Linked DNA regions of Homo sapiens: regions 2 and 3 are each linked to region 1. Evidence: fine-mapped expression QTL. A gene starts in region 1. Each other region holds a variant in brackets. All regions are shown on one strand. Distances are between the middles of the regions.

Region 1 (11,217 bases):
AGCCGGGCCTGTTAGCACATGCCCATAGTCCCAGCTACTCGTGAGGCTGAGGTGGGATGACTGCTTGAGCCCAGGAGGCAGAGGCTGCAGTAAGCCAAAATCGTGCCACTGCACTCCAGCCTGGGTGACAGAGCAAGACACTGCCTCAAAAAAATAATAAAGTGAAAACAAAACAAAACAAAACCAGATGCTGGTAAGGTTGTGGAGAAAAGGGAATGCTTATACACTGCTGGTGGGAATTCAATTCACTCATTTTGGAAAGCAGTGTGGTGATTTCTCAAAGAAATTAAAACAGAACTCCCATTCAACCTAGCAATCCCATTTATTGAGTATATATCCGAAGAAATAGAAATCATTCTACCATAAAGAAATATGCATGCATAGGTTCACTGTAGCATTATTCACAAATGTGTATATACCACATTTTCTTTGTCCAGTCTACTGTTGATGGGCATTTAGGTTGATTCCATGTATTTGCTATTGTGTACATGTACCCCTGAACCTAAAATAAACATTTACAAAATAAGCAGAATACATATACAATAAGAGTAAAACACATATAAAAGAAATCTGTGTCTTAAATCTTATGTAAAAAGTCTCTAAGGGCACACCAGCAAGTTGGATAACATTGATGAGGTGAACAAATGTCTAGAAACACACAGTGTACCAAGAATGAATCATGAAGAATTAGAAAATCTAAACAGACTCACAGTTATATGACATTGATGTAGTAATCAGAACCCCTAAATTGGACAGACACTACAACAAGCTACAAATGTTCTTTATAACTATTAATGCAGAAATCCTCACTTAAATACCAACAAACCATATTTAGCATCATACTAACGCAGAAATCCTCACTTAAGTACTCACAAGCCATATTTAGCAGCACAGTAAAAGGATTATACACCAAAACCAAGTGAGATTTATCCCTAAAATAAAATGGTTCAATATATGAAAAATCAATCAGTGTAATGTATGACATTTGCAAAATGACTGAAATATCGTAGCTATTGCAACGGATGCAGGAAAAGTATTTGGCAAATTATTAAGACCCACTCATGATAAAAATACACAATAAACTAGGACTACAAGGAAACTACAGTATGAAAAACCAGCACTAACATCACCATCAATGCTGAAATACCAAAACAAACAAGCAAAAAAACCCTTTTCTCCCAAGATCAGGAAAGAGCGGTAGAGAACCTCTGCTTTTATCACTCCCATTCAACACAGTATTGGAAATCCTGGCCACAGTGATCGGGCAAGGTTGCTGTACAGATTTAGCATTAATGTGCCAAATGCAGGCAACAGAAAACAGCACAGACTTACCCACTCTAACAAATTCTTCATCCTGCAGGAAACAAACTGATGTTTTGGTTAATTTTTGTAATTCACCAATTTATGTACCACACTTTTGTGTGTGGAAATGTATTCACTTTCTGTAATCATAAAGGAAGAGAGATTTTTCCTATTTCTCTTCCCTGGTAGCATTCCTGATTAAAAGCCCTAGAATTTCATTTGAAACTACCCAAAAGAAGAGACGAGACCTCAAAAAGTTACCACATACACTCAGGGGAATGAAAATAAAATATATCAAAAAAACTCTTCTAAACATTGGCTTGGGCAAAGAACTCATGACCAAGAACCCAAAAGCAAATGCACAAAAACAAAAATGAACAAATGGCACCTAATTAAATTAAAAAGCTTCTGCACAACAAAAGAAATAATCAGCAGAGTAAACAGACAACCCACAGAGTGGGAGAAAATCTTCACCAACTATGCATCCTACAAAGGACTAATATCCAGAATTCACAAAAAACTCAAATCAGCAAGAAAAAATTCCATCAAAAAAGTAGGCAAAGGACATGAATAGTTCTCAAAAGAAGATATACAAATAGCCAATAAATATGAAAAAATGCTCAACATCACTATCAGGGAAATGCAAATTAAAACCATAATGAGATACCACCTTACTCCTGTAAGAATGGCCATAATCATAAAATAAAAAACAATAGATGCTGGGATGCTGGTGTGGATGTGGTGAACAGGGAACACTTCTACACTGCTGATGGGAGTGTCAACTAGTACAACCGCCATGGAAAACAGTATGAAGATTCCTTAAAGAACTAAAAGTAGAACTACCATTCAATCCAGCAATGCCACTACTGGGTATGTACCCAAAGGAAAAGAAGTCATTATATGAAAAAAACACGGCTGGGCGTGGTGGCTCATGCCTGCAATCCCAGCACTTTGGGAGGCTGAGGCAGGTGGATAACCTGACATCAGGAGTTCGATACCAGCCTGGCCAACATGGCAAAACCCTGTCTCTACTAAAAATACAAAAAAAATTTAGCTGGGCGTGATGGTGCATGCCTGTAGTCCCAGCTACTTGGGAGGCTAAGGCATGAGAATCCCTTGAACCCAGGCGACGGAAGGTTGTAGTGAGCCAAGATCGTGCCACTGCACTACAGCCTGGGTAACAGAGTGAGACTCTGTCTCAATTAAAAAACAAACAAACAAAAACACTTGCACACGCATGTTAACAGTAGCACAATTTGCCACTGCAAAAATATGAAACAAACCTAAAATGCCCATCAACCAATGAGGGGATAAAGAAAATGTGGTGGAATACTACTCAGCCATAAAAAGGAATGAAATAATGGGCTTTGCAGCAACTTGGATGGAAATGGAGGCATTATTCTAAGTGAAGTAACTCAGGAATGGAAAACCAAATATTCTATGTTCTCACTTATAAGTGGGAGCTAAGCTATGAGGTTACAAAGGCATAAGAATGATATAATGGACCTTGGTGATTTGGGGGCAAGGGTGGGAGGGGGTGAGACTGCATATTGGGTACAGCGTACACTGATAAGGTGACAGGACCAAAATCTCAGCAATCACCACTAGAGAGCTTATCCTTGTAACCAAAAACCACCTGCTACCCCAAATGTATTGATATAACATTAAAAATTTTTTTAATTAAAAAACTAAATATATATATAAAGTGGATTTAAAATATCTACATATATTTAAAATATCCACTTCTTTCTTTGCCTCTTTGTAAATATTTTATCTTTAAAGCTCTATTGATGAAATACATTTTATGTTTACCTAAGGCACCAATAAATGAACAAAGCTTTGCAAGAGGACAGCCCAGGGAGGAGCAGCGCTAACTGGAACACAGATATGTTTGACTCACATGTCAAGTAAGACCATCTCTCAAGCAGGAGATTCCCTGGTCCCCGGTCTCCTCATTGGAGAGACCACGTACTCAAGGACCAACCTCCCAGCGCAATGCACTGTGGCCCACTGTGTGCCTAAGGTGCAGTTTGCTTGGCAGGTTTTTGTGTCATCTTCCTGGGAAGAAATTTTCTTGTTCTTTAAGGTTGTTTTTCTCCCTTCACAAGTGTGAAAGAATCCAGAGGGCAGGAATCATTTCTGTCTCTCCCTCAAAATACCAGCATTGGATTGGATGACACCAGTGTCTCTCCCAGTGTCCCCACTGTGTCCTCCCACCCCATCCTGCTCAGGGAAGTACTCAATGCCCACCCTCCCCCAGAAACCTGTGCCGTGTCCCCACTGTGCCCCAAATGCATTTTGCTTTTCAGGTTCCTGCCTCACTGCGGGGCGGGGTTTCCTTGTACTTTGGAATAGCTGTTCTCCCTTCACAAGCATGAGACAATCCAGAGGGCAGAAATTCTTTCTTCCCTCAATACCAGTATCCGACTGCCTGACCAGCATTTTGTCTCTAAGGAGTGATAACGGGGGTAAGAGAAGAAAAAAAAATCTAAGTCCTAGTGGATTAGCTTTTTAGAGGAAGAGTATAGAAGAGTATCCCAGGAGACTCCTCTCGGTCCCAGGGGATTCATGCCATCCAGCTGCTCCTCTGAGAGGCTCCACCCCTAAACCTCACCTTGTCTTCTGGGAGAAGAGGACCCAACAGCTGACATTCACTATTTATGACACTCCAAGAGACAGGGCCAGTGTGGGCACATTAGGTCATCCTCAAACAGTTTTGAACCCAGGACCCAGAAAAGACAGGAGGGTGGCTGAGGACACAACACCACGTGAAGGTTCCAAAGGGAAACCTCCATCCAAAGACGTTTGTGAGTGTGCCTAGGGAAGACAAAAGGAGGAGAGGTACAAAGAATTTTTTATAGTGGACTAGATCAGGTGATTATTCTCTGTTTTCACAAGGAATGTTCAGAAACAGCTCCTCACTGCTCAGTGAAAACATGATAAACAATTACATTACTGCATCTGGTTCAAATGCACAATAAAGAACAAATAATTAATAATGTTGTAAATTGGAGAGGTGAAGTTGGAGTTTGAGAGTATGAGGAAGAAACTGGAAATTTAGAATTTTACTGCAAGTTCTAGAAGTTAGGCTGGGGAATACGGTCATGGATTTGAGACCCTGCTTGCCTTACATTTGGGAAATGCAGGGGAAACCAGTACCCTTGTGGAAATAATTAAATAGGAAGAAATTAGACTGAAGTTGTAGCAGGGCAAGCTGCAGACAAAACCCCTCAGACACCGAGTTAAAGAAGGAAGGGCTTCATTCTGCCGGAAGCTTTGGCAAGACTCACGTCTCCAAAAACCCAGCTCCCCAAGTGAGCAATTCCTGTCCCTTTTAAGGGCTTACAACTCTAAGGGGGTCCACGTGAGAGGGTCGTGATCGATTGACCAAGCAGGGGGTACATAACTGGGGGCTGCATGCACCGGCAATCAGAACGGAACAGAACAGGACAGGGATTTTCACAGTGCTTTTCCATACAATGTCTGGAATCTATAGATAACACAACCGGTCAGGTCAAGGGTCAATCTGTAACCAGGCCCAGGACGCGGCGCCGGGCTGTCTGCCTGTGGATTTCATTTCTGCCTTTTAGTTTTTACTTCTTCTTTCTTTGGAGGCAGAAATTGGGCATAAGACAATATGAGGGGTGGTCTCCTCCCTTAAGTGATGATGGTGCCCTGAGTTCCTCACCAAGAAAACCTAAAGGTACTTCATGCCTTTCTTGTAATTAACTTGAAGGGAAAGAAAACTTAACCCCAAATCAGCAATTTACCTCTGATTACATAACCAGGAACCATCCACCTAAATAATCCGAATAACAGAACTACATAATTATAACCAATCAGTTATTAAATTGGGGTTGCTTTGGGCTGGGCGGGGTAATCCCAGCACTTCGGGAGGTTGAGACCAGAAGTTCAAGACCAGCCTGGGCAACACAGGGAGACCCCCCCCCCGCCCCACCCGATCATTAAAATAAAAAATAAATAAATTTGGTTTGTTTCCTTACACACTTTACAGAAGCCTTTCCATCAAGACCGTCCGGTGGCCCACAAACCAAAAACCGTGGCTGGGTGCTCCCCTACTCATGAATCGCTGTTTGCTCAAACTCTGTAACGCTTTAATTAAACCTCAGTTTAATTTTTAACAGGATTAAGGAGGGACTGGAAACGCCAGTGGCCACAGCTCCTCGCAGGCGCGAGCCCGCACACCGCGCTGGGCCTCTCCCCTGAGGCGCCTCGGGTCTCACTGCAGGATCCCGAGGAGCCGCGGGGCTGCGGGCGCGGGCCGGGGAGGGAAGCTGCTTCGGGCAGGACGGAAGTCGCGGTGCAGAGACGGGACCGGAGCCCGGGGTGCCGCTGCCCGCCCAGCTCTGCCGGGCGCCAGAAAGGACCGAGGGCCGCGCCGCGCCGCGCCAGCAGGGACCCGGGTCCGCCCTCGGGAGCCGACCGCTGGGAGCCCGGGGCCCGGGGCCGCCACAGCCCCTTCCCTTCTCCAGACCCCCGGCGGCGCAACTCACCATTTCCCAGCTTCCGGGGTGTCCCGACATCCTCCCTGCGAATCCCCCAGTACATGCAGGTCACAGGAGGGCCCCGGCTGCGGCAGAGCCTCCTGAACCGCCGAGAGTGAAGGAGAAGCGCAGGGCTACTGACCGAGACACGCACGTGCGGGCACGAGAGACAAAGGCCGGGCACACCCGGAAGCCGCCTCGGGTTTTCTAGCGGAGCGCCGGATTAGGCAGTCCCCGCCCCGGTGCCCCTGATTGGGTAGGGCCTCAGGCCCCGCCCCCTCAGACTCTTAGTGACAGGTGACAGCTCCCGCGCGTGTCTGAATGAGGCAGCGTTCTGGCTACAGCTCTTCTCCAAGAGGGTTTCCTCTCTGGGTTGGGACCCAGCCTTGCCTAGGGGACATTCATTTATATACACTTAACCTTGTATACAATGTTACATTCATTTGTGAATAATATATATGATATTTAAAATAGGAAACAATATAATAATAATTCTTTTAAAATTTCAGACTTATTAACCTTCATGGCCTCTGGTCTTCTGAGGAAGCAGTCTGAGGAGCCCGAGTTTTGAAAAGGGAAGCAATCCTCCAAGGCTGCGATTTCCACAGAAATCACATGTGAGCCACAGGTGTCATTTTAAAATTTCTAGTAGCAACAGAAACGAGGAATAAACAGGTAAAATTGATTGCAATACTTTATTTAACTCAATATATACAAAATATTATAATTTAAATATATGATAAATATAATATTAATGAAGTATTTTTTGTTGTTCTGTTTTTTGGTACTAAATCTTTCAAAGTCACTCTGCGTTTTAAACTTCCAGCATGTACCGATTCAGACCAGCCACATTCTAGGTGCTAAGTAGACCCCTGTGGGCAATGACTGTCACACTGAAGTGCAGTTTTGAGGGCTCTGGTTCCCCTGACCTCAGGGAGTGAAGGGCCCGAACCCCTCTTTTCTGCTAGAGGTGAGGGAATGCCCTCCTTCTGCTAACATCTCTCCTCAGGCCCAAGGGTGGCAGAGACAGTGCCCAGAGAGAGAAGTGGGCTGCAATAAAGAAGTATCTAGAGGGAGTCTACTATTTCCCACCTGCTCTTGCCAGGGGCCCAGCCTCTTCTATAGATAAGACAGTGAAAAAAAGATGAGGGGCCCCAGGAGAAGAAAACCCATGTCTTCAGATTTGTCCACAGCCTTAACCTCAGGACTTTAGATGTAGAGGGAATACATTAAAGACAAACTTCTCATTTTGCAATTTGGCTTTGGCCCTAATGGTCAGGCTGTGGTTTTCTGTTTCCTCCTGTGGTGTGGAATTTAAGTGTGTGAGTTTAAGCACAAATCACATGCATGTCTACGTGCACTTCTGTATGGCTCAACACCGTCTAACCAGAAATCCAACTTTACATAAAGGGAAAAGGAAATCAGTACATACAGGGTGCCTTGTGTTTGCCTGGTAAATTGCAATCAACATGTCATTGAATCCTGGCATCCTGTCTGCACTAGGTGTACGTATTACCTATTGCTTCACAGTAAAATTCCCCAAAACGTATTAGATTGAGCTGGTCCACCTTCTAGGCTGGGCTCAAGTGAGCCATTCTTCTGGTCTCTGCTGGGCCCTTTCAGGCACGTGTGGTCAGCTGCTGGTTGACTAGGCAATGCTGCTTCTGAGGGTGAGCTGCCTGTCAACTGTGGCACTTTGGTTTTCCTCCCTATAGTATCTCATCCTCTAGCAGGCTAACATGGACTTGTTATTATGGAGATGACAGGGTTGTGAAATAAAAAGCAGAAGCATTCAAGAGCTTTTGTGCCTCGGCCCCAAACTGGCACATGGTCATATTCACAGCTTTCTACTGCCAGAGCAAATAAGGCCAGTGAGATTCAAGGTTTGGGAAACAGATTCTGCCTCTCAATGAAAGCAGCTATAAAAGCACATCACAAAGGGCATAAATACAGGAAGGGATGAAGAGTTGCTGCCATTTTTGCAATCAGTATCATGCCTTTTCTTGCAGATGAGGTTTATATAACTTTCCAAGACAAGGAAGTTGTGCAAAGCCTCACAGCTACTAAGAGGCTGGGCTGGGACCAGGATTAACTTTTCGTGACTCCAAAGCCCATGCACCTCTGCAAGCCACACGAATCAAGCAGCTTCTCTAAACCTTTGAAGTCCTGGAAAGTAACTCTTCTGCAATAGAAGCAAGAATCCTGTGAGATTGGGATCCATCTAGTACTCTTCACCATTTGGAACAACTGCCTCCAGAGAATGCTTCTGACACATCTTGGAAGAACGTGGAATAACTTGAGGAAATGGTCGATTTGCTAATTTAGGAAACCAATGTTCGATATTACATATTTTTTATTTCTTTTCATAGGATAAATTTAAAAGCACAGATGACGCACTCCACATGAACGCAAATCCTATTCATCCCTTTTTGTTGTTTGTAGGCTATTTATGATTTTCAACAAAGACTAAATCAAACCACTGTGTCTGAAATAACCTCTTACTCTGAAAGCAAGTGACATGAAAATAGACCTGCTGAGAAAAATTTCTTCCTGCTGCAATTTAACGAAACAGCTGACTACAATTTGAAGCCATTCTTTGATTTTTTTTTTTTTTTTTTTTTTTAAGATGGAGTCTCGCTGTGTCATCCAGGCTGGAGTGCAGTGGTGTGATCTCGGCTCACTGCAAGCTCCGCCTCCCGGGTTCACGCCATTCTCCTGCCTCAGCCTCCCGAGTAGCTGGGACTACAGGCGCCGGCCACCATGCCCGGCTAATTTTTTTGTATTTTTAGTAGAGATGGGGTTTCATCGTGTTAGTCAGGATGGTCTCCATCTCCTGACCTCGTGATCAGCCCGCCTCGGCCTCCCAAAGTGCTGGGATTACAGGCGTGAGCCACCGTGCCCGGCCCATCCTTTGATTTTTAACAAGGCAAGCTTGTTTTCCAAGACCTCAAATAGATCATGTGAGTGTCAGGGCTACTATATTGACTCAGAAGGTGGACCATATCCTCTGTTTGGAGATGGAGTGGTGAGAGGGCCTGCACCAGCATGTGAAGACCTTAGGTCCATAGGTGAGATTCAATCATCAGGTGTGGTGTTTTAGGGTCCTGATGTTTATGCAAAAGTTATGTGTATATTACTAAAGGTAAATTGTAGAACATTACAAATAATCATATATAAACCAAAAATGTCAACTACAATTGTCATTATGCATTATTATTCTAAGTATTTTTACCACAATTAGAAGTAGTAGCAGTTGTTGCTGCTGCCGCTGCTGTTGTAGGAATGGAGATGAAAACATGGAATAAAGCTCTGCTGCCTGGTCATTCTGCTGCTCCTACGGCTGCAGATGTGCTAGTTCTGCGCAGACTTTAGACTTCTGTTGTGAAGCTGTAACTTAAGAGACTTTCAGTGCTCTGCTGTGGCAGGAAAAAAGTTTGAGTCAAGACAGAACAACAATTCTGTGAATTTGAAGGTGGAGGGTAGGATGGTTCTGGGGCGCAGTTGAAGGGGAAGAAGTACACATCACTGAATGAAGGAGTGGAAGCCTATGGTGAATGGCAGGGTTTGGCCATGAAGCAAATCAGATTTGGATTTTACGGACGGTCACTCAGTGAAACTGACACACCTGCAAAGCGGGAAATGGAGGACGAATAAACAGGTGATGTGTTCCAGCAGCAGACAGGAGGGCCTTCTAAGAACACACCTGCTCCTTTACCCAGGACCTCTTCCTACAACTCCAGCAGACATTCTCATGTAGAAACCCACAATGTGATTTCATCACATTCTGACTCCACATTCTGACACCACATTCTGACTCCACATTCTGGCTGGTACAGTATCCTTTTCTCCATTCTCTTATCTTCCCCTTCCTCATTTCATTATTGCACATAAAGCATCTGGGGTAGGCACACAAGCATATTGCTATTTTTGTTTGCTTGTTTGTACTAAATGACATGTGTTGATCCGCAGCCAAATGAGACGGGGCAGAAAAATACTGGCCCCGTGAAGACTGTTTCTCCACCAGTGGCTGCTCACTCAGCTCTTATCTCTGTATTTCAGGACTTAAACAACAATAACAAAAAACCATAATACCCTTGCATAGATTGTTCAATTGGTGAATTTCAATGTTTTTAATATAGCATTGTAAAACCAAAAACAATTTCATAACTTTTTTATCTACGTAGTTGTTACACATAGGGCAAATCTGTATATAGGACTATGTATATAGGACTATATATATACGCGTGTGTGTATGTGTATATATATATAGTCCTATATATAGCATATAGCATATATATTTATATATGTATCTATACTATATACATATGTATGCATGTATACTATATACATATGTATGCATATATACATATATACTATATATACACATATATAGTATATATACACTACATATATACTATACACTACATATATACATTACTATATATGCTATATATATACACTATATATATAATATATATAAACCTATGTATATAGGACTAAATGACACTTGAAAGAATGAATCTCAAATACTTTTCCCTTCAAATCCACTGTCTGTTTAAGTATACATTTTGCATATAATGAAAAAATACATAAAAATTAAAATGTAAGGTTTATCTCACTATCCAGTGTATCAGTTGGACCAAAAATGAGGAAAAAGAGGCATCTTGTCTGCAGGAAGTTCTCAATTCTCCTGGGACCCCCGAACCACCTGCGCCCCCCAAGCAGACCCCGTTCTTGGCCTGTTGCCAGTGGCAGTGCATCCTGATGAGGCTTCCACGTCTTGGCCCAGGAGGCACAGGGAGGGTAGGAGGTTGTCTGTCTCACAGCCAGGCCAATATCCCTGACCCAGGACCCTCTGGAAGAAGATTCCCAAGGTCCCCGTCAGCTTTTGGAAGGGTTATGCCATTCTAGAGAAATTATAAATGTTCTTGGGGGTTGACCCATAGGTGAGCTGGGCATCCCTGTGCTCTTGGGAGCTGGAGCAGGCAGGAGGCCCATCCTCCTGGGCACAGCCGCCATGGCTGCAGACCCAGGCATCTCTGCACTCTGGAGGGCTCAGGAAGGTTCCCCCACCCCCACAGGCTTGGAAGTGCTCGCTCCCACTGTCTGGCTTCTCCTCACTCTTGGCATCCACTCCAATCACAGAGAAAAGGGGAGTCTGGGCCCACGCACCTATCAACCCATCACCTAGGTATTAAGCCCAGCATGCATTAGCCATCTCCTCTTTGACTTTTAACATGAAATTCTCATGATCATTTTATGTTATCAATGACCAGTCATAGGTTTTAAAATGCTGGCTGTTACTTGTGTATAATAACAATGACATTTTTATTAATAAAACAAAACACGGGATACTTTTTTTTCAAAGAACACATTAATTGCATGTAAAATTGCTTGTGGATTTGTGTAA
Region 2 (8,516 bases), 49 kb before region 1:
TGACAGCAAGGTCATCACGGGGAGGGGGCGTGTCCCTGTGGGGGGGTGACAGCAAGGTCATCACGGGGAGGGGGCGTGTCCCTGTGGGGGGGTGACAGCAAGGTCATCACGGGGAGGGGGCGTGTCCCTGTGGGCGGGTGACAGCAAGGTCATCACGGGGAGGGGGCGTGTCCCTGTGGGGGGGTGACAGCAAGGTCATCACGGGGAGGGGGCGTGTCCCTGTGGGGGGGTGACAGCAAGGTCATCACGGGGAGGGGGCGTGTCCCTGTGGGCGGGTGACAGCAAGGTCATCACGGGGAGGGGGCGTGTCCCTGTGGGGGGGTGACAGCAAGGTCATCACGGGGAGGGGGCGTGTCCCTGTGGGCGGGTGACAGCAAGGTCATCACGGGGAGGGGGCGTGTCCCTGTGGGGGGGTGACAGCAAGGTCATCACGGGGAGGGGGCGTGTCCCTGTGGGGGGGTGACAGCAAGGTCATCACGGGGAGGGGGCGTGTCCCTGTGGGGGGGTGACAGCAAGGTCATCACGGGGAGGGGGCGTGTCCCTGTGGGCGGGTGACAGCAAGGTCATCACGGGGAGGGGGCGTGTCCCTGTGGGCGGGTGACAGCAAGGTCATCACGGGGAGGGCTTATCTTCCTCCTGGTCCCCTGGTGCCCCCTCCTGGGGGATGACAGTTCAGCATTTCCAAGAGTCTTGGCAGGAAGGCCGCCCCCAAACCAGTCCTTAGGAAGGAGAAAACCGTTGGGCTGAGGGTAGAGGCTGCAGCAGCCCTGGACACCAGAAGGGGGCAGAGACGGGGCCTCCTGGATGCCATCCTCACCCGGTACCCACCAAGCCCTGGAGCTCTACAGAGGGAGGCCTAGGGGCGCAGATTCTAGTGGGCCATCGCTGCCCAGCCATCTCTGAAGCTCCCAGTTCTCCAGGCAGCCGGATTTCCCCTTCTGGTAAACTGTTCCCAAGGCCTGTGCCGGTTCATGCACCCAGCTGGGTCCTGGGCCTTCTCCTGGTGGGCCTGCCTCAGTGTGCTTCCCTGGGCAGGTGGGTACTCCGCTGGCAGATGCCCTTATGACCTGAAGGTCTCAAGGCCAAGGTGGAGCACGCTGGACCTCTCAGCAGGAGCTGCCAGCTGGAGGAAGCAGACAGGGAGGGGACACATGGCCCAGCTCTGAGAAAGCCTGAGATGGGGGAACATGACGTCGGGGCTCCTGGGAGCCTCGTCTACTTCAGCAGGGGTCTTTAAAAGGCCAACACTCCCTACACAGGAGGAAAAACCGAGATTGCAGGCGAGGGCAAGGTTGGAAGGGCGTCGGGTCAGACGGGCCTCTGCTCCCCACCTTGGCTATGGCCTTCCTGTGCACTCTGCCAGCAGGGACCCCACTGGACTCAGCTCCAGCGGGTGGACAGGAACCAGCTTGTGGTGCCAGACACCAACACCATTTGCTTCTGATGCCTGACCATGGGCAACTCTACTCCCTCCATCTGGCTGAAGAGCCAGAAGAAGTTCTGTGGAAAGCATCACACGCGAGCATCGAGGTGGGCCTGGAGGGTGGTGGGGGCATGGCTGCCATCCTCTCTCGCCCTTCCACTTGGAGCCGAGGCACCGGCAGTAGAGTCTGGTTATGAAGAGGGCGGTGCGTTCAGACTGCTGTTTTCCACACATGTCATGAAGAACAAGCTCAGCAGCATCCAGCAAACTTACATGCTGGACAGGCTGTGTGTGGGCTGTGGCCTTCAGGCAGGGAGCATGAAGTGAGGTAGCCCTAAGCCCAGCTGGGCCCTCTCAATGTGTTCTCCTCACCAGCGCCTTCTGCTAGGCAGCGAGGTGCAGCTCCATGGCAGGTGTACAGCACCTTAGCACACGGAGGTGAATGTCAGCAAGGCGGGCCTGGACAGCACACCGTACCTCACTGTTCTCAAGGTGGGCACCACCGTTGGCTGGGTACAGGGTGGACAGCACGCCCTACCTCACTGTTCTCAAGGTGGGCACCACCATTGGCTGGGCACAGGGTGGACAGCACACCGTACCTCAGTGTTCTCAAGGTGGGCACCACCCCTGGCTGGGTGCAGGGTGGACAGCACGCCCTACCTCACTGTTCTCAAGGTGGGCACCACCATTGGCTGGGCACAGGGTGGACAGCACGCCCTACCTCACTGTTCTCAAGGTGGGCACCACCATTGGCTGGGTACAGGGGAATGGGCAGGCTGGAGGCCTCGCTTCACTGAAGTCTTCACTTCACGGGTAGATTTCATTGAAATCTACTAGCATTATAGAATTTTTGGAGTAACCTATGAAAGACAAAATTATGTTGGAAGGCCGAAGCGGGAGGATCATTTGAGTCCAGGACTTTGAGACCAGCCTGGGAAACGCAGTGAAACCCCATCTCTACAAAAAATACAACAATCCCAGCACTTTGGGAGGCCGAGGTGGGCGGATCAAGAGGTCAGGAGATTGAGATCATCCTGGCTAACATGGTGAAACCCCATCTCTACTAAAAAAAAAAAAAAAAAAAAAAAAAAAATTAGCCAGGCGTGGTGGCGGGCAGCTGTAGTCCCAGCTACTCGGGAGGCTGAGGCAGGAGAATGGCATGAACCCAGGAGGCAGAGTTTGCAGTGAGCCAAGATCGCGCCACTGCACTCCAGCCTGGGCGACAGAGCGAGACTCCGTCTCAAAAAAAAAAGAAAAATGAGCTGGGTGTGGTGGCGGCATGCACCTGTAGTCCCAGCTACTCAGGAGGCTGAGGTGGGAGCAATTTTCCTTCTTGAACCCGGGAAGTCGAGACTTCAGTGAGCCCAGATGGTGCCATTGCACTCCAGCCTCGGAGACAGAGACACTGTCTCAGAAAAAAAAGGTACCAGCAGGAAACAAAATCCTGTGCACTGAGTAGTTCTCCAGGATATGAACTTGTTGGTTCATATAGAACCTGCTATGAACCAAAGTCCAAAATTAGATGTGGTTTCTCCTAAAGAATGTGTCAATTCATAAAAGTGGGAATCACTCCTGTGACTGTCTCTCATAATTGGTTCAAAAACATTTGCTTTTCTCTCTGCAACTTTGTATATTTTTAAATTAATTAAATCTTTTTACTATATGTGTATTTATCCTATTTCATCTCGGGTTTACCTTGATAATTTGTTCCTAATGAAATATTTATTCTGCGTTTGTAGTATTCCATAGTTTCCACGTTTTTAGGTTTTCTGGGCAGTCGACATGGAAGATTTATGAGGGTAGGGCTTTGGTGTCATCAGTGAATGACCAAGAGTTTTCTTTTCTTTTCTTTTTAAGAGACAAAATCTTGCTCTGTCATCCAGTCTGGAGTGCAGTGGCATGATCTTGGCTCACTGTAACCTCCGCCTCCCAGGTTCTAGCAATTCTCCTCCCTCAGCCTCCCGAGTAGCTGGGACTACAGGTGCCTGCTGCCATACCCGGCTAATTTTTTGTACTTTAGTAGAGACGGGGTTTCACCATGTTGCCCAGGCTAGTCTTGAACTCCTGAGCTCAGGCAATCCACCTGCCTTGGCCTCCCAAAGTGCTGGGATTACAGGCGTGAGCCACGGTGCCCAGTGACCCAGAGTTTTCTCTGTTGTAGCATGACAAATATAAGGATAGCTGATATACTTAATACTCATTTTTATTGTGTGAGTCAAATGAGTTATTGCATCTAAAGGAAACCAGTGAAGCATGCCATTTGACTTTGGATTATTTCAAGACAGCACACTGAGCCCACATCCACTGTTTCATTAATATTTAGATAGGACAGAAAAGCAAATGTTGATAAGAACAAATACTACACCACTTAATAAATAATGAATGGTATGAATAATGGAAATTTGATGAATCAGATGAATCAGTACTTATTTAGTTCATACAATGTGTTAGTCATTATTCTAAGTGATTTATACCTATACACTTAATACCTAATCGTTTAACATGTATAACACAATGATTTATGGAGAATGACACATTGATAATCATATTAGGTGGCATTAAAACCATAGAAATAAAAATGTTCTGGTATATAACACAAATGAACACAGGAAAGTTAAATAACTTGATTAAAAAGTGTGACTTCAATAGCAAAGACATGGATTCAACCTAAATTCCCACCAACAGTGAAGTGGATAAATGCCCATCAACAGTGAAGTGGATAAAGAAAATGTGGTACATTTCTTTACCATGGAATACTATGCAGCCATAAAAAAGTGAGGTCTCCCTATGTGTCCTAGGCACTGGAGTGCAGTAGCTATTCACAGGCACACTTCAGCCTCAAACTCGTGGGCTCAAGCAATCCTCCCACCTCAGCCTCCCAGATAGCTGAGATTTCGGGTGTATGTCGCCATGCCTAGCCCTGGGAGTTTTGCAGTAACACCCATTGAAGTGCACAAGGCGATGACCTTTATGTCAGATCTTTCAAAATAGTTCAAGTAACAACGGTCATCCCCAGTTATGTTCTCATGTGTTTCACGGTGCTACAGAGAGATGTTTCTGCTGATGGTGGCCACGTGGTTGAGTTCTGATCAATGAGACTTAGAAAGAAGTGCCTGGGGAGAATGGACTTCTGTAAATTAAAAAGCAATGGCTTCCAACCTAATTCCCCATGACCTATCAGCTTACTATTTCCTCCTGGTTGCTGTTTGGAATGTGGTTTGATGCCTGGAGGTGGGACAGCCAACTTGGACCATGAAGGAATAAGCATGAACACAATAACTAAGCATAGACAATGTCAGAGAGAGAACATGAAAACAAACTTGTATCTCATAAGATCACTGGACTATTTCATCAATCATGGGCTGCTACCTCTTCAACAGTGTACATGAGACACAATACACATATTATGTTCTTTTTTTTTTTTTCTGAGACGGAGTCTCGCTCTGTCACGCAGGCTGGAGTACAGTGGCGCGATCTCGGCTCACTGCAATCTCCGCCTCCCGGGTTCATGCCATTCTCCTGCCTCAGCCTCCTGAGTAGCTGGGACCGCAGGCATCCACCACCACGCCCGGCTACTTTTTGTATTTTTAGTAGAGATGGGGTTTCACCGTGTTAGCCAGGATGGTCTCGATCTCCTGACCTTGTGATCTGCCCGCCTCGGCCTCCCAAAGTGCTGGGATTACAGGCGTGAGCCACTGCGCCCGGCCTACGTGAGCCGTTTTTTGTTAATAGCTTTATTGGGATCACACACGTATCGAACATTGGTTTCCTAAATTAGCAAATCGACCATTTCCTCAGGTTATTCCAAGTTCTTCCAAGATGCGTCAGAAGCATTCTCTGGAGGCAGTTGTTCCAAATGGTGAAGAGTACTAGATGGATCCCAATCTCACAGGATTCTTGCTTCTATTGCAGAAGAGTTACTTTCCAGGACTTCAAAGGTTTAGAGAAGCTGCTTGATTCGTGTGGCTTGCAGAGGTGCATGGGCTTTGGAGTCACGAAGTTAATCCTGAGTCCCAGCCCAGCCTCTTAGTAGCTGTGAGGCTTTGCACAACTTCCTTGTCTTGGAAAGTTATATAAACCTCATCTGCAAGAAAAGGCATGATACTGATTGCAAAAATGGCAGCAACTCTTCATCCCTTCCTGTATTTATGCCCTTTGTGATGTGCTTTTAGCTGGGAC[T/C]ACAGGCACCCGCCACCACGCCCGGCTAATTTTTTGTATTTTTAGTAGAGACGGGGTTTCACCGTGTTAGCCAGGATGGTCTTGATCTCCTGACCTCATGATCCGCCCGCCTCGGCCTCCCAAAGTGCTGGGATTACAGGCGTGAGCCACTGCGCCCGGCCTACGTGAGCCATTTTTTGTTAATAGCTTTATTGGGATCACACACGTAAAATTTAGCCATTTAAAATGAATGATTTTGTGGCTTTTTTTTTTTTTGAGACAGAGTCTCGCTCTGTCGCCCAGGCTGGAGTGCAAAGGTGTGATCTTGGCTCACTGCAACCTCCACCTCCCAGGTTCAAGCGATTCTCCTGCCTAAGTCTCCTGCGTAGCTGGGATTACAGGTGCAGGCCACCACATGTGGCTAATTTTGTATTTTTAGTAGAGACAGCGTTTCACCATGTTGGCCAGGATGGTCTTAAACTCCTGACCTTGTGATCTACCCGCCGCGGCTTCCCAAAGTGCTGGGATTACAGGCGTGAGCCACCACGCCCGGCTCTGATTCTGTGGCTTTTAGTACATCCACAGAGTTGCCCAACCATCATCACAGTCAATTTGAGATGATCACCCCATAAAGAAATTCTGCATCCTGTAGCAGCCAACTCCTTTCCCCCCAGCCTATGCAACTTTCTGTCTAATCTACTAATCTACTTTCTGTCTCTATTTGCCAATTCTGGACATTTCATATAAAAATAAAATCACGCAATATGTGGGGTTTGTGTGTGTGTGTATGTGGCTTCTTTTACTTAGCCAAATACTTTCAAGGTTCATTCATGTTGTAGTATGTATCAGCATTTCATTCCTTTTGTTTTAGAGACAGGGTCTCGCTCTGTCACCCAGGCTGCAGTGCAGTGGTGTGATCATGGCTTACTGCATCCTCGACCTCCCCAGGCTCAGGTGATCCTCCCACCTCAGCCTCCCAATAGCTGGGACTACAGGCACACACCGCCATGCCCGGCTATTTTTTTATTTTTTTGCATTTTTAGTACAGACGAGCTCTCATCATGTTTCCCAGGCTGGCAACTCCTGGGCTCAAGTGATCCACCTGCCTACGCCTCCCAAAGTGCTGGGATTACAGGCATGAGCCACAGCGCCCGGCCTTCATTCCTTCTTATGGGTGAATAAGATTTCATTGCAAGGATAGACCACATTTTATCCTCTGACGGACACTGGAGACTTTTTCACACATTGGCTGTTACGAATGCTGCTGCTGTGAACATTTGTGTACTAGCTTTTTTGTGGATGTTTTAATTTCTCTTGTGTATCTGTACCTGGGGGTGGAGTTTTTGGGTCAAATGGTACCTCTATGTTTGAATTTTAGAGGGGTTGCCAGACTGTTTTCCAGAGTGGCTGCGCCATTATGCAATCCCACCAGCAGGGTGTGAGGGTTCCAATTTCTCCGTATCTTCACCGACACCTGTTTTTGTCTTTTTTTTTTTTTTTTTTTTTTTTTTTTTTTTGAGGCAGAGTTTCCTCTTTCGCCCAGGCTGGAGATCTCCACTGACTGCAACCTCTGCCTTCCCGTTTCAAGGGATTCTCCTGCCTCAGCATCCTGAGTAGCTGGGATTACAGGCGTCTGCCATCACACCCGGCTAAATTTTGCATTTTTAGTAGAGACGGGGTTTCACCACATTCGCCAGGCTGGTCTCCAACTCCTGACCTCGTGATCGGCGCCGGCGCCGATTAAAGGCGCCACCGCACCCAGCCATCTGTTTATTTATTTCATTTTAGTCATCCTACTGGGAATGCAGTGGTATCTCATTGAGTTTTTGGTAACAACTTTATTGAGAGAGGATTCAAACAGCATAGAATTCACCCATTTAAACTACATGCAGCAATGTGGCTGGATCTCATATTAATTAGTCCAAGTAAAATAATCCAGATAAAAGTAAGGACATTTGAATAAAAGCTATTTTCACTGGGGAAAAAAAGTAAATATTGTACAATTGTATTCATATAAAATTCTAGAAAATGTAATAGTCCAGGCACAGTGGCTCACACCTATAATTCCAGCACTTTGGGAGGCTGAGGTGGGCGGATCATGAGGTCAGAAGTTCGAGACCAGCCTGACCAACATGGTGAAACCCGTCTCTACTAAAGATACAAAAATTATTATTATATTGTACCCTATTTTAAATATCATATATATTATTCACAAATGAATGTAACATTGTATACAAGGTTAAGTGTATATAAATGAATGTCCCCTAGGCAAGGCTGGGTCCCAACCCAGAGAGGAAACCCTCTTGGAGAAGAGCTGTAGCCAGAACGCTGCCTCATTCAGACACGCGCGGGAGCTGTCACCTGTCACTAAGAGTCTGAGGGGGCGGGGCCTGAGGCCCTACCCAATCAGGGGCACCGGGGCGGGGACTGCCTAATCCGGCGCTCCGCTAGAAAACCCGAGGCGGCTTCCGGGTGTGCCCGGCCTTTGTCTCTCGTGCCCGCACGTGCGTGTCTCGGTCAGTAGCCCTGCGCTTCTCCTTCACTCTCGGCGGTTCAGGAGGCTCTGCCGCAGCCGGGGCCCTCCTGTGACCTGCATGTACTGGGGGATTCGCAGGGAGGATGTCGGGACACCCCGGAAGCTGGGAAATGGTGAGTTGCGCCGCCGGGGGTCTGGAGAAGGGAAGGGGCTGTGGCGGCCCCGGGCCCCGGGCTCCCAGCGGTCGGCTCCCGAGGGCGGACCCGGGTCCCTGCTGGCGCGGCGCGGCGCGGCCCTCGGTCCTTTCTGGCGCCCGGCAGAGCTGGGCGGGCAGCGGCACCCCGGGCTCCGGTCCCGTCTCTGCACCGCGACTTCCGTCCTGCCCGAAGCAGCTTCCCTCCCCGGCCCGCGCCCGCAGCCCCGCGGCTCCTCGGGATCCTGCAGTGAGACCCGAGGCGC
Region 3 (11,217 bases), 34 kb before region 1:
AAAAAGGCCCTCAGAAAAACCCCATCCAAGAGCCAGCAGCCTCAAAACTGAAGCTAGACAAACTCACAAAGATGAGAAAGAATCAATGAAAAAATGCTGAAAACCCAAAAGGCCAGAGTACCTCTTCTCCTCCAAATGATCACAACATCTCTCCATCAAGGCCACAGAACTGGATGGAGGATCAGTTGGACAAACTGACAGAAGTAGGCTTCAGAAGATGGCTAATAAAAAACTACAATGAACTAAAGGAACATGTTCTAACCCAATGCAAAGAAGCTAAGAACCTTGATAAAAGGTTAGAATAAGGGAGGAGACCACCCCTCATATTGTCTTATGCCCAATTTCTGCCTCAAAAGAAAGAGTAAAAACTAAAAGCCAGAAATGAAATCCACAGGCAGACAGCCCGGTGCCACACCCTGGGCCTGGTAGTTAAAGATCGACCCCTGACCTAACCGGTTGTGTTATCTATAGATTCTAGACATTGCATAGAAAAGCACTGTGAAAATCCCTGTCCTGTTCTGTTCCGTTCTGATTACCAGTGCATGCAGCCCCCAGTCACATACCCCCTGCTTGCTCAATCAATCACGACCTTCTCACGCAGACCCCCTTAGAGTTGTGAGCCCTTAAAAGGGACGGAATTGCTCACTCAGGGAGCTTGGCTTTTGAGACGCAAGTCTGCTGAAGTTCCCAGCTGAATAAAGCTCCTTCCCTCTTTAACCCGGTGTCTGAGGAGTTTTGTCTGTGGCTCCTCCTGCTACAAAAGGAATTGCTAACTAGAATAACCAGTTTAGAGAAGAACACAAATGACCTGGTGGACCTGAAAAACACAGCATGAGAACTTCATGAAGCACACACAAGTATCAACAGCTGAATTGACCAAGTGGAAGAAAGGATATCAGAGTGTGAAGACCACCTTACTGAAATAAGACATTCAGAAAAGATGAAGACTGCCTTACTGAAATAAGACATGCAGACAAGAAGAGAGAAAAAAAAATGAAAAAGAATTAACAAAGCCTCCAAGGAATAAGGGACTTCATAAAAAGACTGAACTTATGATTGACTGGAGTACCAGCAGGAGACAGGGAGAATGGAAACAAACTGGAAAACACACTTCAGGATATTAGCCAGGAGAACTTCCCCAACCTAGCAAGACAGGCCAACATGCAAATTCAGGAAATACAGAGAACACCATTAAGATACTCCTCAAGAAGAACAACCCCAAGACACATAATCAGCAAATTCTCCAAGGTCAAAATGAAGGAAATACTGTTAAGGGCAGCCAGATAGAATGGCCAGGTCACCTACAAAGGGAAGCCCATCAGACTAACGGTAGACATCTCAGCAGAAACTACAAGCCAGAAGAGATAGGGAGCCAATATTCAATCAATATTCAATATTCTTTTTTTTTTTTTTTTTTGAGATGGAGTCTCACTCTGTCACCCAGGCTGGGGTGCAGTGGTGCGATCTCAGCTCACTGCAACCTCCACCTCCCAGGTTCAAGCGATTCTCCCACCTCAGCCTCCCAAGTAGCGGGGATTACAGGCATGCACCACCATGCCCGGCAAGTTTTTTGTGTTTAGTAGAGACAGGGTTTCATCATGTTAGTCAGGCTGGCCTCAAACTCCTGACCTCAGGTGACCCACCCACCTCGGCCTCCTAAAGTGCTGGGATTATAGGCATGAGCCACGGCGCCCAGCCTCAACATTCTTAAAGGAAAGAATTTTCAACTCAGAATTTCATATTCAGCCAAACTAAGTTTCATAAGTGAAGGAGAAATAAAATCCTTTCCAGACAAATGCTGAAGGATTTCGTTACTACCAGGCCCGTGCTGCAAGAGCTCCTGAAAGAAGCACTAAATACGGAAAGAAAAAACTGGTACCAGCCACTGCAAAAACACACCAAAATATAAAGACCAATGACACTATGAAGAAACTGCATCAACTAATGGGCAAAATAACAAAATAGCATCACGACAACAGGATCAAATTCACACATAATAATAATAACCTTAAATGTAAATGGGCTAAAAGCCCCAATTAAAAGACTTGGACTGGCAAATTGGATAACGAGTCAAGACTCATCAGTGTGCTGTATTCAGGAGACCTATCTTATGTGCAAAGACACACATAGGTTCAATATAAAGGGATGAAGGAATATTTACCAAGCAAATGTAAAGCAAAAAAAAGGCAGGGATTGCAATCCTAGTCTCTGACAAAACAGACTTGAAACCAACAAAGATCAAAAAAGACAAAAAAGGGCACTGCATAATGGTAAAGGGAACTATTCAACAGGAAGAGCTAACTATTCTAAATATATATGCACCCAATACAGGAGCACCCAGATGCATAAAACAAGTTCTTACAGACCTACAAAGGGAATTACACTCCTGTGTAATAATAGTATGAGATTTTAACACCCCACTGTCAGTATTAGATCAATGAGACAGAAAATTAGCAAGGATATCCAGGACTTGAACTCAGCTCTGGATCAAGTGACCTAGTAGATGTCTAAAGAACTCTCTACCACAAATCAATAGAATATACATTCTTCTCAGTGCCACATGGCACTTATTCTCAAATCAACCACATAATTGGAAGTAAGACACTTCTTAGCAAATGCAAATGAACTGAAATCATAATAGTCTCTCGGACCACAGTGCAATCAAATTAGAACTCAGGATTAAGAAACTCACTCCAAACCACACGATTTCATGGAAATCAAAAAACCTGCTCCTGAATGACTGCTAGGTAAATAATAAAATTAAAGCAGAAATCAAGAAGTTCTTTGAAACCAATGAGAACAAAGAGACAATGTACCAGAATCTCTGGGACACAGCTAAAACAATGTTAAGAGGAAAAATCATAGTACTAAATGCCTACATCAGAAAGCTAGAAGCAAGAGCAAACTATTCCAAAAGCTAGCAGAAGACAAGAAAGAACTAAGATAAGAACTGAAGAAGACAGAGACACAAAAAACCCTCCAAAAAAATCAACAAACCCAGGAGCTGGTTATTTGAAATAATTAACAAAATAGACCACTAGCTAGACTAATAAGAGAGAGAAGAATCAAAAAGATACAATAAAAAATGATAAAGGGAGTTATCACCACTGACCCCACAGAAATAAAAACTACCATCAGAGAATACTATAAACACTCAATGCAAATAAACTAGAAAATCTAGAAGAAATGGATAAATTCTTGGACTCCTACCAAGACTAACCCAGGAAGACGTCACATCCCTAAGTAGACCAATAACAAGCTCTGAAATTGAGGCAGTAATTAATAGCCTACCAATCAAAAAAAGCCCAGGACCAGATGGATTCACAGCAGAATTTTACCAGAAATACAAAGAGGAGCAGATACCATTCCTTCTGAAACTATTCCAAACAATTGAAAAGGAAGGACTCCTCCCTAACTCGTTTTATAAGGCTAGCATCATCCTGATACCAAAACCTGGCAGAGACACAACAAAAAAAGAAGACTTCAGGCCAATAACCCTGATGAACGTCAATGCAAAAATCCTCAAGAAAATACTGGCAAACTGAATCCAGCAGTACATCAAAAAACTTATTCACCACGATCAAGTTAGCTTCATTACTGGGATGCATGGCTGGTTTAACATGCAAATCAATAAACATAATCCATCAGATAAAGAGAACCAAAGACAAACACCACATGATTCTCTCAATATATGAAGTAAAGGCCTTCAATAAAATTCAACATCCTCTCATGTTAAAAACTCTCAATCAACGAGGTATTGATGGAACATATCTCAAAATAATAAGAGCTATTTATGACAACCCCACAGCCAATATCATACTAAATAGTCAAAAGCTGGAAGTATTCCCTTTGGAAACTGGTATAAGACAAGGATGACCTCTCTCACCACTCCTAAGTTCTGGCCAGGACAATCAGGCAAGAGAAATAAAAGGGTATTAAAATAGGAAGAGAGGAAGTCTGTTTGTAGATGACATAATTTTATATTTGAAAAACCCCATCATCTCAGCCCCAAAACGTTTTGAACTGATAAGCAACTTCAGCAAAGTCTCAGGATACAAAATCCCTGTGCAAAAATCACAAGCATTTGGTTACACCAATAGGCAAGCAGAGAGTCAAATCATGAATGAACTCCCATTCACAATCACTACAAAGAGAATAAAATACCTAGGAGTACAGCTAACAAGGGATGTAAAGGACCTCTTCAAGGAGAACTACAAACCACTGCTCAAGGAAGTAAGAGAGGACACAAACAAATGGAAAAAATTCCATCTTCATGGATAGGAATAATCAGTATCACAAAAATGGCCACACTGCCCAAAGTAATTTACAGATTCAGTGCTATTCCCATCAAACTACCATTGACATTCTTCACAGAATTAGCAAAAACTATTTAAAATTTCATGTGAAATTGGCCAGGCACAGTGGCTCATGCTTGTAATCCCAGCACTTTAGGAGGCCAAGGCGGGTATATCACTTGAGGTCAGGAGCTTGAGACCAGCTTGGCCAACATGGTGAAATTCCATCTCTACTAAAAATACAAAAATTAGCCAGGCGTGGTGGTGTGCACCTATAATCCTTGCTGCTGGGGAGGCTGAGGCAAGAGAATCACTTGATCCCAGGAGTTGGAAGTTGCAGTAAGCCAAGATCATGCCACCGCACTCTAGCCTGGGCAACAGAGTCAGACCCATCTCAAAAAAAAAAAAAAATTATATGGAGTCAAAGAAGACCCAATATACCCAAGACAATCCTAAGCAAAAAGAACAAAGCTGGAGGCATCATGCTACCTGACTTCAAACTATACTACAAGGCTACAGCAGCCAAAATAGCATGCTACTGGTACCAAAACAGATATATAGACCAACGGAGCAGAACAGAGACCTCAGAAATACCACCACACATCTAAAACCATCTGATCCTCGACAAACCTGACAAAAACAAGCAATGAAGAAAGGATCTCTGATTCAGTAAATGGTGCTAGGAAAACTAGCCAGCCATATGCAGAAAATGGAAACTGGACTGCTTCCTTATACCAAAATTAACTCAAGATGGGTTGAAGATTTAAATGTAAAATCCAAAACCATAAAAACCCTAGGAGAAAACCTAGGGAGGCCAGGTGCAGTGGCTCGTGCCTGTAATCCCAGCAGTTTGGGAGGCCAAGGTGGGTGGATCATGAGGTTAGGCATTCGAGATCAGCCTGGCCAACATAGCGAAACCCTGTCTCTACTAAAAATACAAAAAAAAAAAAAAAAAAAAAAAGAAAGAAAACCTAGGGAATATCACTCAGGACATAGGCGTGGGCAACTTCATGGCAAAAATGCCGACAGCAATTGCAACAAAAGCAAAAACTGACAAATTGGATCTAATTAAACTAAAGAGCTTATGCACAGCAAAAGAAACTGTCCTCAGAGTGAACAGGCAACCTACAAAATGGGAGAAAATTTCTGGAATCTATCCATCTGACAAAGGTCTAATATCCAGAATTTACAAGGAACTTAAATATATTTACAAGAAAAAACAAAAAACTCATCAAAAAGTGGGCAAGGGATATGAATAGACACTTCTCAAAAGAAGACATTTATGCATCTAACAAACACATGAACAAAAGCTCAACATCACTGATCATCAGAGAAATGCAAATCAAAACAATGAGATACCATCTCATGCCAGTCAGAATGGTGATTATTAAAAAGTCAGGAAACAATAGATGTTGGTGAGGCTGTGGGGAAATAGGAACGCTTTTACACTGTTGGTGGGAATGTAAATTAGTTCAACCATTGTGGAAGACAGTGTGGCGATTCTTCAAGGATCTAGAACCAGAAATACCATTTGACTCAGCAATCCCATTACTGGGTATATACCCAAAGGAATATAAATCATTCTACTATAAAGACACGTGCACACGTATGTTTATTGCAACATTATTTACAACAGCAAAGACATGGAACCAACCCAAATGCCCATCAATGATAGACTGGATAAAGAAAATGTGGTGTATATATATATGTGTATATATATACCATAGAACACTATGTAGACATAAAAAGGAATGAGATCATGTGCTTTGCAGGGACATGGATGAAGCTGGAAGTCATCATCCTCAGCAAACACAGGAACAGAAAACTAAACACTGCACGTTCTCACTCATAAGTGAGAGCTGAACATTGAGAACACATGGAAACAGAGGGGGAACAACACACACCAGGGGCTGTTGGGGGTTGGGGGGTGAGGGGAGGGAACTTAGAGGACAGGTCAATAGGTGCAGCAAACCACCGCGGCACATGTATACCCATGTAACAAACTCACATGTTCTACACGTATCCCGTTTTCGTTTGTTTTAGAAGAAATAAAACATAAAAATTCTGGACTAATTTAAAATGAACAATTCTCCGATCAATCACATGGCAATTCCTTGCCCCAAGAGTGCAGAGAAAGAAAGGTACATACATAGACCCAAAACTTACTAGAGTAGAAACCCATAAGCACATCTTCATGAACCAGTACATCTGTAGGAAAATTGAAAGTGTAATTGGCAAATTGTTTAAAGCTGAGTGTGAACATGATTGACAGTAACAAATAACTGGAAATGTCAAGCTGGGAACTGCTTAGGGCAAACCTGCCTTCCGTTCTACTCAAAGTTAACCCTCTGCTCACTGAGATCAATGCATATCTGACTGCCTCATTTTGGAGAGGCTAGTCAGAAACTCAAAAGAATGCAACCATTGTCTCTTATCTACCGATGACCTGAAAGCTCCCTCCCGACTTCAAGTTGTCCTGCTTTTGCTTTGAGTTGTCCTGCCTTTCTGGACTGAAC[C/T]GATGTTCATCTTACATATGTTAATTGATGTCTCATGTCTCCCTAAAATGTGTAAAACCAAGCTGTGCTCCGATCACCCTGGGCACATGTTGTCAGGACCTCCTGGGGTTGTGTCATGGATGCGTGTCCTCAACCTTAGCAAAATAAACTTTCTAAATTACTGAGACCCATCTCAAATTTTCACGGTTCACACCACTATGTAATACCCTTGTTGTTTTAAATCTTTATTGGTTTAAATCTGTTTTGTCAGAAACTAGGATTGTAACCCCTGCTTTTCTGTTTTCCATTTGCTTGGCAGATTTTTCTCCATCTCTTTATTTTGATCCTAGGTCACTGCATGGGTCTCTTGAAGGCAACATACCATCAGGTCTTGCCTTCTTATGGAGCTTGCCATTGTGCGCCTTTTAAGCAGGGCATTTAGCCTGTTTACATTCAAGATTAGTATTAATATGTGTGGATTTGATCCTGTCATGTTGTTAGCTGGTTATTATGCTGACTTGTTTGTGTGGTTGCTTTATAGTGTCACTGATCTGTGTATTTAAGTGTGTTTTTGTATTGGCTGGTAGCAGATTTTTCTTTCTATATTTAGTGCTCCTTTCAAGATCTCTCATAAGGCAGGTCTGGTGGTAATGAACTCCCTCAGCATTTGCTTGTCTGAAAAGGATCTTATTTCCCTTTCACTTAGGAAGCTTAGTTTGGCTGGGTATGAAATTCTTGGTTGAAGATTTTTTTCTTTAAGAATGTTGAATATAGGCCCTGAGTCTTTTCTGGCTTATAGGGTTTCAGCTGAGAGGTCTGCTGTTAGCCTGATGGGGTGACCTTTGTAGGTGACCTGCCCTGTATAGCTGCCTTTAACAGTCTTTCTTTTATTTTGACCATGGAAAATCTGATTATTGTGTGTCTTGGGGATGATTTTATTGTGTAGAATCTTGCAGGGGTTCTCTGGTTTCCCTGAATGTGACTGCTGGCCTCTCTACCAAGGTTGGGGAAGTTTTCGTGGATGATATCCTAGAATGTTTTCCAACTTGTTTGCTTTCTTCCCATCCCTTTCAGGGATGCCAATAATTCATAGATTTGGCCACTTTACAAAATACCATATTGCTCAGAAGTTTTGTTATTTTTTATTCTTTTTAATTTTTCTGACTGTCTTATTTCAGAGAGCCAGTCTTCATGTTCTGAGAGTCTTTCCTCCACTTGGTCTATTCTGCTGTTAATACTTGTGACTGCATTATGAAATTCTTGTAGTGTGTTTTTCTGCTCTGTCAGAACCATCAGGCTCTTTTTTATATCAGTTATCTTGTCTTTCAGCTCCAGTGATTCTTAGTTTTTTTGGATTGGGTTTTGCATTTTCCTGAATCTTGATGATCTTAATTCCTATCCATATTCTAAATTCCATTTGTCATTCCAGCCAGCTCAGCCTGAGTAAGAACCCTTGTTGAAAAACTGGTGTGGTCATCTGGAGGACATACAACACTCTGGCCATTTGAGTTACTGGAGTTCTTTCATTGGTTCTTTCTCATGTCTGCAGGTGGGTGTTCCTGTAACTGCAGTGTAGATTGAGTACAGTCAGTACACTTTTTTTTCTGGATGTCTTCGCAGAGCCAAGGCTTTGTGCAGGGTCTTCATTTGTAGCTGACTTGTCTTTGGTCTCACAGAGGGGAATGCTAGCAAGGTGTTTTTGGTGTTGGAACTTCGGGATGTGATCCAGTAGGTGGTGCTTAGGCATACTGGTTAGTTGGTAGGCTCTTGCTTGGTCATGTGGCTCCCCTATATTTTCTGACAGTTGCAGTCATGCTCCCTCTCAATGTTCTGAAAGTGTGGGCTTCTCTCCCACTTGAATGCTGGCTATAAATTGTGGCTTGGCACTCTTGGGCTGCCCACCACAGCTCTGGGGCACTCTCAGGGCTTATGTTCCTCCCCTGGCTTGGAGGCAGCAGAGGAAGGGACCTTAATAGTGGTTGTGGCCAAAGGTCTTTTGCTTGTCTCCTGGGGGCTCCACCCAAGAGGAGCCGGTTAGCAATTGCTAAGTGCAATCAGCCCAGAACGGAGGGTCTGTGCTGTGGGACCAAGCCCAGGGTTTCCTATCTGGTGACAAGCAGGGGGAGTGGGTGGAACCTGTGGGAGATGAACTGGTCTCCTCTCCTTGGGTCAACTGCAGTTTGTTGTAGGTGTGGATAAGGCACTTATGGTATTTGTTCATTCATTTGTCTGAGGATAGCAAGGGCAGTTCCACTGCAGACAGCGGTAGCAAGGCTTTTGTTTGCTCCTGGGGGCTCCACCTCCAAGAAATGCAGAACCATAGTTACTGGGGGTGTTCAGCTGGTGGGTGGGGCACCTGCACTGCTGGCATAAGCTTGGGGTTCTGCTTGTTGGGGAGCAATGGGATGAAGGCTCACAGGGAGAAAAGACTAGTCTCTCGGTATGGTGGCTGTGGTGGTATGCTGTTAAGCTTGGGTGTAGCTCTCAGGTTCTTTGTTTCTTCCCCAGACCAAAGGCAGCAGGGATAGAACTATTACTGTGGCAATGGCAGAGGGGCTGTCATATGCCTCTGGGAGCCTCTCCATGGGGAAACTCTGGGCCACTACTGGTGGGTATGCTCAGCCATGGGAGAGGTGACTGTTCTGTGTTCATGAGCTGGGGGCCCTACAGCAGCAAAACTGAGAAGACCTGTGATGCCTGCCATAGTGGATCCCCAAGGGTCCGCACTGGGTGCAGCAAGCAGCCCATATCTCAGTCCCCAGGAGACCACCTGCTGCCAGTTCTGAAAAGCCTGGTGACCTCTATGGTAAGTCTGAGGCCATTTATCAAGACCTAGTTCAGACACAAGCACAGTAGGTCCATTCTCTGCTGACCTGGGAGCAGCTCTCTTAGCTTGCCAGCTCTGGGGGCCTCTGTGCTGCAGTGCAGAACTTCTACACCATGGACTCCCAGGTGGCCTGGGTTCCCTGCTGAGGGCTGGGAATCTCAGCCACCCTGACTTGTGCCAGGGTCCAGCCCTGGCTGGAGAAGTCCAGAGCTCCTTCTGGGAGAAAGATAGGACCAGCCCTTTTTTGGACCAAAGGTAACTCAGCCTATCTATAGATGAGATGAAGCTTGACCTGGGGGTCTCCTGACCCTATTCAGCAAAGAAAACAGGTCTGGGAGTGAAAACAAAGACTTGCTGCTTCTCAGATTCTTCTGGATGACCAGCAGTGACAACTTTAGACACACCATGTTAATAACAGAACCTGTGGTGGTTGTAGAAAAGGAATTTGAACAATATACTGAAAATGGTAAACCCAGTTTTCTTTAAGGCTGATTACTGACAAATTTTGTATTTCATATAAGACATCTGATGTCTTTTGGCTGTCTTATGACAGTCATGCATTTCTGTAAATCAGAAAATATTATTAGGGTGTAATCATTCATATATGTTTGTATATTAAAAAGAGTAGCAAAATGAATATATATTTATATCTTCCCCACTTGAACTCAGAAAAGGCTGTAGCTCTTCACTCTCCCAGGCCGAGTCCTCAGAAGATTGATATTCACCAACCTTTAATAGCATTCTCTCTGGAGAAATGCTTCTATTTTTTCAGTTTGATGAAATCACCATGCCATTGTTTTTACTTTTCATTTTCTTACACAGAATCTAAGACAAGGTATATTAAATGCTTAATGATCCTATTCTTCACCTGGCTCATATCATTTACCTAATTTTAAACTTTCTTCTACTCTAAAAATTTCAATTCATCTTATGTATTGTAGAAGATTTTAAATCTAATACAGGTATTGTCTTTTTTTTTTTTTACATATATTCTATTGGCATTTTACACTGGGATCATGGAATATTTCATTATGTAAATTATTTAATTTTTATGTAGAAAAAAGAAAATTATTTTGGTGTTTGTTTTGTTCTTTGCTCTATAATTTCCATTACATACTGATTAGATAATTTTTTGAGTATTTTAAATTTTAGGTAATTATGCATTTTATCCATAAAGAATCTGCATGTGAGAGAGAGAGCTATTTTCTCCTCACTTCTATTTCATCTCCATCCTGACCTCCCCAGAATCCTCAGCTCTTTGTGTAGTTGGATAGCAGTTTATAATTCCAGTAAATGGGCCTAATTCAATAATATACCACAAATCAGTTTGAAACCAGGACATGCCTTCAAGACACACCCAAATGCCTATATATATAATAATACTAAGTTACAATTGATGTAAAAAATAAAATTACAAAAGGATTGTTAAAGTAAATTCAAAGGGACATCAGGCCTAAAAAATCCCTGAGGAAATGTGTGATCAGAGGCTTTCCCAGGCACACACTGCTCTACAGCCCTACCACACAGGCTTAACCGAGAATTTGACCCCGGAAGGTGACGGATGAACATGTGTCCTGGTATTCTGATCTACAGAAATCCT

What was found. PIP is the estimated chance that this variant, and not a neighbour inherited with it, causes the effect. A credible set is the group of variants that fine-mapping cannot tell apart.
Region 2: its variant is the best candidate, but not a certain one, in a credible set for the expression of ZNF124 in minor salivary gland (GTEx, PIP 0.83).
Region 3: its variant is the best candidate, but not a certain one, in a credible set for the expression of ZNF124 in whole blood (TOPMed, PIP 0.56).

The regions. Positions count from the first base shown.
Region 1 is chr1:247,166,032-247,177,248 of GRCh38, forward strand. It overlaps ZNF124 (zinc finger protein 124), which reads right to left and starts at 5,989. Exons shown (of 4, transcript NM_001297568.2): 1 at 5,817-5,989. The coding sequence starts at 5,846. RefSeq lists a silencer at 9,456-9,750.
Region 2 is chr1:247,118,365-247,126,880 of GRCh38, forward strand. It overlaps the pseudogene FGFR3P6 and a transcript of ZNF124 not described here. Among named protein-coding and RNA genes, the nearest start is that of LINC02897, 10 kb to the left of the region's middle. The variant T/C (reference allele first, on the strand shown) is at 5,603.
Region 3 is chr1:247,132,255-247,143,471 of GRCh38, forward strand. It overlaps a transcript of ZNF124 not described here. Among named protein-coding and RNA genes, the nearest start is that of LINC02897, 25 kb to the left of the region's middle. The variant C/T (reference allele first, on the strand shown) is at 6,812.